2 separate regions of the Homo sapiens genome follow, and region 2 is linked to region 1. The links come from fine-mapping of genetic effects on gene expression. Tissue or cell type: tibial nerve. Region 1 holds a variant in brackets; the other region holds the start of a gene. All regions are shown on one strand. Distances are from middle to middle.

What was found. PIP is the estimated chance that this variant, and not a neighbour inherited with it, causes the effect.
Region 2: TOX2 starts here. The variant in region 1 is fine-mapped to the expression of TOX2 in tibial nerve (GTEx, PIP 0.93).

The regions. Positions count from the first base shown.
Region 1 is chr20:43,976,812-43,981,036 of GRCh38, reverse strand. The region is part of intron 2 of TOX2 (TOX high mobility group box family member 2); the gene reads right to left. Among named protein-coding and RNA genes, the nearest start is that of TOX2, 64 kb to the right of the region's middle. The variant T/AT (reference allele first, on the strand shown) is at 2,301.
Region 2 is chr20:43,912,869-43,917,093 of GRCh38, reverse strand. It overlaps TOX2 (TOX high mobility group box family member 2), which reads right to left and starts at 2,242. Exons shown (of 9, transcript NM_001098797.2): 1 at 2,104-2,242. The coding sequence starts at 2,202. RefSeq lists silencers at 762-811, 872-931, 2,002-2,091, 2,142-2,251, 2,272-2,371 and 1 more and enhancers at 1,070-1,787, 1,788-2,505.

The DNA of each region.
Region 1 (4,225 bases):
TCATATCTCCTTCCTTTTTTTCTACCAGGGTTTTGAACTGATCTCTAGCAAGTCTTCATGTATAAGGGTGATTAGTTCTTCAACTATGGTGTAAGTTGAAAATATTCTTGCCCAACTTTTGTCTACTGACTTTACTTATGCTGGTTTGGCCATACAAAAGTCATATGTTGATTTTATGTTAATTTTTATATTTATATTAATTTAGTTTTATGTTAATTTATGGTCCAATTTTAAGTCTTTTCTTCTGAGGCTTTAAATAGTAGAAATGCCTTCCCCACACCAAACTTGTAAAGTATACCTTAAGGTTTGTTTTGCTGGTGCCTTTATGGTTCCCTTGAGTATGTTTAAATGTTTGATTTAACATTTATCAAATCATTTTTTATTTTTAATTTTTGTGTGTACATAGGTGTACATATTTATAGAGTACATGAGACATTTTGATACAGGCATGCAATAAGTAATAATTACATCATGGAGAATGGGTTATCCATTCCCTTAAGCATTTATCCTTGTGTCACAAACAACCCAATTATACTCTTTCAGTTATTTTAAAATACGCAATTATTGACTATACTTTGTTGTACTATCAAACATTAAATCTTATTCATTCTATTTTGTACACATTAATCATCCCCATGTCCCCCCTCTGCCCCACTACCCTTCCCAGCCTCTGGTAACCATCCTTCTACTCCCTATCTCCATGGGTTCATTGTCTTGATTTTTAGACCCCACAGATAAGTGAGAACATGCAATGTTTATCTTTCTGTGCCTGGCTTATTTCACTTAACATGATGATCTCTAGTTCCATCCATGTTGTTGCAAATGGATCTCATTCTCTTTGTATGGCTGAATAATACTCCATTGTGTATAAATACCACATTCTCTTTACCCATTCATCTGTTGATGGACACTTAGGTTTCTTCCAAGTTTTAGCTTTGTGAACAGTGCTGCAACAAACATGGAAGTGCCGATATCTTCAATATACTGATTTCCTTTCTTTGGGGTATATACCCAGCAGTTGGATTGCTGGATCATATGGTAGCTCTATTTTTAGTTTTTTGAGGAACCTCCAAACTGTTCTCCACAGTAGTTATACTATTTTACATTCCCACCAACAGTGTACGAGGGTTCCCTTTTCTCCATATCCTCACCAGCATTCGTTATTGCCTGTCTTTTGAATATAAGCCATTTTAACTGGGTGAGATCACATTTCATTGTAGTTTTGATTTGCATTTCTCTGATTGTCAGTGATATTGAGCAACTTTTCATATGCCTCTTTGCCATTGCAGGTCTTCTTTTAAGAAATGTCTATTCAAATCTTTGGCCCATTTTTTAATTGGATTACGAGATTTTTTTTCCTATAGAGTCATTTGAGCTCCTTATATATCCTGATTACTAATCTCATCAGGTAGTTTGCAAATACTTTCTCCCATTCTGTGGGCTGTCTCTTCACTTTGTTGATTGTTTCCTTTGCTGTACAGAAGTGTTTTAACTTGATGTGATCCCATTATCAAAGGATTTTATTTATCCTTTGATAAATTTTAAGGAACTGTGGATCCAACATCCTTTTCACCTAGATCCCCTCTCTTCTTGAATTACTCTGCCCGTGGTTTCTAAGACTCCAAGTTCTCCTCCTACTTCTCAAACCACTCCTTCTTAATCTATTTCACAGTCTTCTCCTCCTCTACTTTGCCTTCAAATGTTGGAGCTCAACATCTCAGAGTCATTGGTCCTCTGCTCTTCTCGTTCTTCCCTCTCTCCATAAATCTCCTTCACTCCCAAGGTTTTGATATCATGGGCTGAAGATTTCCAAATTTACTTCTCTTATGAGCTCAAGATTTGTACCATCATCTATCTACTTGAACATCTCCATGTGGATGAGCATCTCAAATATAACACATCCAAGTCTGGCATCATCAAACCTGCAAATCCCCAGGGTTTCCCCAACTCAGAAAATGGTACCACCATGCCTGAAAATGGGCTCATGGTAGAAGCCTAGGAGTCATCCTTTACCCCTCCGTTTCTCTCTCCCTCTATGTCCATCACTGTCAAGACCCACTAACTTTATCTCCAATGCATCTACTTCTTTCCATCCCCTCTGCCACAATCTAGATCTTGATCCTTTACTTGGCCTATTACCAACCCTCTCAACTTGGTCTCCCTGTATTCATTCTTGTCATTGAGAGCTTTTAAGACTGCAAATCTGATGTCATTCATGTCATTCAGTCTGACTCTAATACACACACACACACACACACACACACACACACACAAGTTCTTTCAATAATTCCTGTAAAAAA[T/AT]GTGAGCTCTTTAGCAGAAGTGGTATTTAGAGCTAAGAGAGTGGAAAACTCTACACACAGCCAGGAAGGCTGTGATGAGGAGGTGACATTTGCAGTGCCCCTGAAGGAACAAATAGGCATTTGTTGGTTGAAAAACACTAGGGGATTCCCATCAGAGGAAACAATGCATACAAAAACACCAAGTTGTAAATGAGCGCAAGAGGTGAACAGAAGCTCTTGTGTGACCAAAGCATTATATATGGTAAAAAATAATAAGTCATAGCTAGTTTTTCTGACTCTGGTTCTTTACATACTCTTAGTTTAGCTTCCTCTGAAGTACAGCCTGAGATGGGGATGCCTGTGAAAGTGACTTGAAGAGGGCTCTTAGAAGAAGGGCGGGAGGGAGGCAGGACATGACAGGGGAGGAGCTGAGTAAAGATTTGGCCTTGGTGGCTGGAGTCTGGCTGGATTAGCTGGAGCCCATGAGGAGTTGCAGAGTTGGTCACTCCTTGAGATAAGGATATCGGTTTCTAGACCTCCCCTTCTATCCTCTCCTGGGTTCACAGTTCCAATTTTCCAAAGAAAGAGTAGCTGTGAATAGTTAGCAGCCAACACTCACAGCAGCTGAATGATGAGCAGGACTCTGGTGAGGCAGCAACAGAATCCACAATACACACACACCTCATTTACTTCTCATGACACTCTAGGAGGCAGACGCTGCTACTCCTCCCATTTGATAGGAAGCTGCTATCACTTGCATAAGGAAATCTGGCCCATGCTGAGGCATGGAGGAGCTGGAATTTGAATCCAGGTCTGCTGAGTCCCAAGCCCACTTCCCTTTCCTCCTCACCTCGTCCCAGGAAGGAGGAGACTCTTTCTGGGTCACATCATCAGGAAATATCCATTTCTGTAACTCCTGGACAGAGTCTGCTCTCAACAGGAAAGAACTGACCTCTACCAGGTCCTCTACCCCCCTGGAGCTGCTGATGGGGACACAGCCCTATCTGAGAATTATATCTCATTCTCAGGCCACCCCGGCAAGTCTGGTACAAAAGTAACCCAAGGTCCAAGGAGGGAGAGGGAGTGTGATCATTTGTAGAAGCTAAAGCAGCTATGGGAAAATTTATGTGGAGTCTTGCAAAAACCAAACAATGGAGAATGTATTTGCAAAAAAAAACACTTCAAGCCCGTAGAGCGGCGGTGAAAGTTTTCAAAAAGGGACACAGTCAGCTAATACATACCCTAGGGGAACCTCTGTCTCAGCTGCGGTTTCTAAGTAAAGAAGATGGCATCTCAGGAGAAGTGTTACATTAAAGAACAAATTTGTAATACGATTTGAATGTTCTGGGCCAGACATAGTGACTCACGCCTGTAATCCCACCACTTTGGGAGGCCGAGGTGGGCGGATCACTTAAGGTCAGGAGTTCAAGACCAGCCTGGCCAACATGGTGAAACCCTGTCTCAACTAAAAATACACACACACACAAATCAGCTGGGTGTGGTGGCAGGCACCTGTAATCCCAGCTACTCGGGAGGCTGAGGCTGGAGAATCACTTGAACCCAGGAGGTGGAGGTTGCAGTGAGCCGAGATCAAGCTACTGCACTCCAGCCTGGGTGACAGTGAGACTCCATCTCAAAAATATATACATATATTGATTGGATGTTCTGGAAGCAAATGTTTTCCAGAAATGGCTTCCCACTGATATTCACAGCCTTGCATATAACAGGTGTCCAATAAACATTTGCTGATTGGGTGAACCTTGTATTTAACTGTATTTATAAAACATATTTTAAGCCATTTAGAGTGTTTATCCTCTGAATCCTCTAGTGGCTGTGAGGGCTTCATTTTACCCAAATGTTGATGTCAATCCTTAATCCAGTAATTTGGACAATACAATTCTTGCAGTTGATGAGACAACACATTGTGAGAGGGTGTTCACGTGTAT
Region 2 (4,225 bases), 64 kb after region 1:
AGTGGCTCAGCTGCATCCCCACCCCCATCCCTGCCCCGCCCCACTCTGGACACATCCTCAGCTATGGGCCAGGGGTCCTACATCCCACACAGAAAGAAACCAGAATCGCCGGCTTCTCATTCCCTCCCTGACGGGCCCTTCCCGGCGAGATTCGCACAGGTTCTGGTGCTGAGTCAGAGGTTTACAGAGCATCAGAATAAAGCAGGGGCCTCGGCTGAGTCCTGCCTCCAAAGGCCCCTATTTGGGACAGCCCCACCCTGGCGAGATTTATAGAAACACCACCCTCAAACGGAGCGCTCCAGGCTAAACCCCCACCCACTCAGACTTTGAGGCACAAATGCCCAGCCCACCCACACCCGCAAACCAGAGGCTGGTACCTACCTCGCCAACTTCACATTTTGAAAAATAACAAAGCCAAGGGCAGAAGACAGACCAGCTGCCCCCACACCCAACCTTCTCCTCCCTGAAAACTCCACTTGCTACTTTTAATCTATTTTCCTCCATCAGACTGGAGGCAGCTCCCGGCCTTCTCCTGAGGCTACCATCCCCCCTCATCGGCTTCTAACTTTGCAGGTCACTGGACAAAAGAGAACCACCGCCACTCTTCGCGAGACCTCACTTGTCGCCCACCACCGCCCCACATCGCGCAGGCCCTAGTGGCCTGGATGCTTGCTGCCCCTGGCGAACTGCAGGGAGGCTTTGCCAGAAGCCGCTCCCCTGGGGCCTGAGGGCGCACTCAGGGAGGCCCAGCCCGGGAGGCCCCGGGATCCGCGCCGGGACGCCTCTCTCCTGCCTCATCCCCACTACCAGGGGCCTGACGAAAAGCCTGCGAGGTTGGGGAGAGACCCTGGGGGGCGCCGATCCAGCCACTGGACGCGCACTCACCCCGCATCGCCACGGAGCCCACGCGTCTGCGCCAGGGCTGCGGGAAACCCACGCGCGCTGTTCAATCCGGGCTCCGAGTGACGAAAACCCGCGCTTGGCTCCAGCCGGCCCGGGACCGACGCACCGACTGGCGGACGCGCGGACAGTCTGGCTTCCTAACTAAGTTTGAAAGTTCCCTCTCCGGCGACCGAAGGGGACGCGGACTGCTTAGAGGCACCCAACCCATCCAGGCTGGGCCAGACCCGGCAGTGGGACCTGACGCCTCGGGTTCGGGGTTCCAGGCACGCAAGCCTCCATCACTGGGAATGCGCCCGGCGCAGCGCAGCTGGGACCTGGCTGGGGTGGGGGGATAGATCCTGGAAACATGGAGGAGGGAGGGTGTCCGGCACTACAGCCCCAGCCTGGAGGGACGCCGGCTCACCGCTCCCGGGAGGACACAGGCCTCGATTGGCCGCAGCCTACTCGGAATCCGAGGCCCCGCCAGGCAGTGACGGCCAATTAGTAAACTGCCCAATTAGTGTGCTGCGGCGCTGAGAAGTTAAACCTCGACGCGCGAGTGTGGATGACCGAGGTGTGGCCGTCCCTGGGTGTGACCGCGTGTGACTGTGTGGCCGTCAGGACGATCTGTGTCTGAGGCTCACCGTCCAGGGGGGTGGCTGTGTGTGACAGCGTGCGCCTGGGTGAGGCGTTGTGGCTGCGAGAGTGTGACTGTCGGGCGACTTCTTTGTGTGACTGTCCCCCGTTGTGCCTGGGTGTGACAGCGGGTGGGGGCATGTCACGGTGTGTGGGGCATCGGAGCGTCTGTGGGTGACTCGTCTGTGGCGGTGAGGCTGTTTGCGGGTGAGTGGTTGCGTGTCGTTGTGTATAAGTGACTGTCAGGGTGACTTGCGTGGGACGGCGGGACCGTGTAAGCAGTGCCTGGCCGCCTGCGTGTGGCTGTGGGTCACTGTGACGGCTTGTGAATGACTGCGAGGCTGTCAGGGGGACGCGAGTGAGGGGCCACTGTGTCGTCGCACGGGTGGCTGTCGGGATGACTTCTGCCCGCGATCCCAACAACTCAGGGCGTGAGCGTGGCCGCGAGGGGATCGATGTGAGCCGCCCGTGCCCGTCGGCGGGGCTGATGTGCGCGGCCCCGTGTGACCCCGGGAGCGCCTGAGTCCCGAGCTGCCAGGTGACTCCGGCCCCGCCCGCCGGGGACCCCCGCCCGCCCCCGCCTACCTTGCCGCCGTGGTAATAGTCCAGGTGCGCCAGGCCGGCCGGCTCGGCCCCGGGCCGCGCGCCCACCGCGGGCGCCGAGGGGTACAGGCGGACGTCCATGGCGGGCGCGGCGGCGGCGGCGGCGGCTCCCGCGGGCAGTGCCTGGGCGGGCGGCGGGTGGGAGCCAGTGTGCGAGCGGGACTGCGAGCGCGGGGGGCGGGCCGGGGGCGGTGCCCAGAGGAGCGCCCCGCCCCCGCCCCCGCCCCGCCCGCGCGCGCTATTGTTCCGGCCTCGGGCGCTGCCTAGGGCCGGGGGCCCGGGGGCCCGGGCCGGGGCGTGGAGGTCCTTCCTCCGGGCTGGGCCGCCGCCGGGTCCCCCGCCCGGCCCTGCATCCCTGAGGGGGGCGCGCCTGTCCAGACGGCGCTTTTCCGTCCCGCCTTTCGCCACCCACGGTGAGGAGAGAAGCCCGAACGGCACCCCTCCCCAGAAGTGGGACACTCCCTTGCCCTAAATATTTGAGGCGGCGCTAGTCCCCGCCCCGCGGCGTGGGTGCGGGGGGAAGAGGAAGGTGGTGACAGGACCACTTTGGAGATGGGTGCTGCCTTACCTGGGGGGACGCAGGCCAGCGCCGGAGGATGCTCTTAGCATGCCCGCCCCCTCCTCGTCTCACTGATCTGAGTCAGCTTGACAGCCCCCCCTGGAGATTGCCGCGCTTAAACTCTCACTCACATATGGGGAAACTGAGTCAAAAACTTGCAGCATCAGTAATGGAGCTCCAGGCGGGTGGGCTCCGTTGCCCCCAAAGGATCCAGAGCTGAAACCACTTGGAGAAGGCAGCAGGACCCCACCCCTTTTAATGATAGGGAGGGGAGGGCCGCAGGAATGCCTAGAGCCCGAAGCTCTGAAGAGGGGTCTAGGATCTGCCCACAGTCACGGTCTCTTGGAGTGAGGAAAGGAAGAAAATGAGATTGGAATGGGATGGCTCTGATGGTGGGTCAGAAAGGTGACTGTGAAATGGGGTTCCTCCCCAACCAAAAAAAAAAAAAAAACCCTCTAGTTCTTGATATCACTTGCTGGTTGCTAGACTGTTGCACCCCCATCCCCCTTTTCATGCAAGAATTGTCTACACTAGCAATCTCCCCTAGCAATCTCACTGCTCACTGACTGCTCCAGGTATGTCTGACTGGGAGAGGCCAGGAGGCGAAGTCAGCCAGAATGGCATTCTTGTGTGGCACCAGGATATAGGATGCCATTGGGAGAAAAGGACTTGAGCTTCCTGCCCACTCAGGAGCTAGCTTAGAACTTAGTTCTCAACTGCTGCTTGGGCTTTGCTGGTCCTGGCCTAGAACTAGGACCATAAGAAAGATGCATTAACAAAAGATAGGTGTGGGAAACAGGCATTCACTGAAGGCTTGGGAACAACAGAGGGAAATTATAGCTCAGAAAGGAAAGAACTTCCAAATAAATTTCAGCAGTCATTGTTTCTAGAAATACAATGCCACACCTCATCAGAAAAAAATTTCCATTGTCCTGTGTCCATTTTTTTCATCTGGATATCCAACTGACCAGCACTCTTTATTGAAAAGATCACCACCACCACCACCACCCCCCTACACACACACACATACTCTTCTGCAATGCTAACATTGTCGTAAATCAAGTAGTCGATATGTGCATAAGACTGTTCCTGAATTCTCTATTCTGTTCTGTTAGCCTATTTTTCTCTCCCTGTGCCATTATCACAATGTCTGGATTACTGTGGGCTTATAAGTCTAAATGTCCCATGAAATAAGCCTACCCATTTTGTTCTTTTAAGACTGCATTGGCTATTCTTGATGTTTACACTTTCACAGAAATTTTGGAATCAGCATACCTATTTATATATATACACACAAACACACTAACACAATCTTGCTGGGATTTCAATTGGTATCACTTTGAACCTTTAGATCAATTGGAATAAAATTAACATTTTCAATAGTAAAACTTCTTATCCATGAACATGGTATGTCCCTTCATTTATTTTGGGTTTTTAAAAAAGTTATCTCAGCAATGTTTTGTAGTTTTCTACGTGGAGACCTTGCACATCTTTTATTAAATTTAGCCCCGGGTGTTTTTTGTTGCTATTATGAATGGCTTCTTT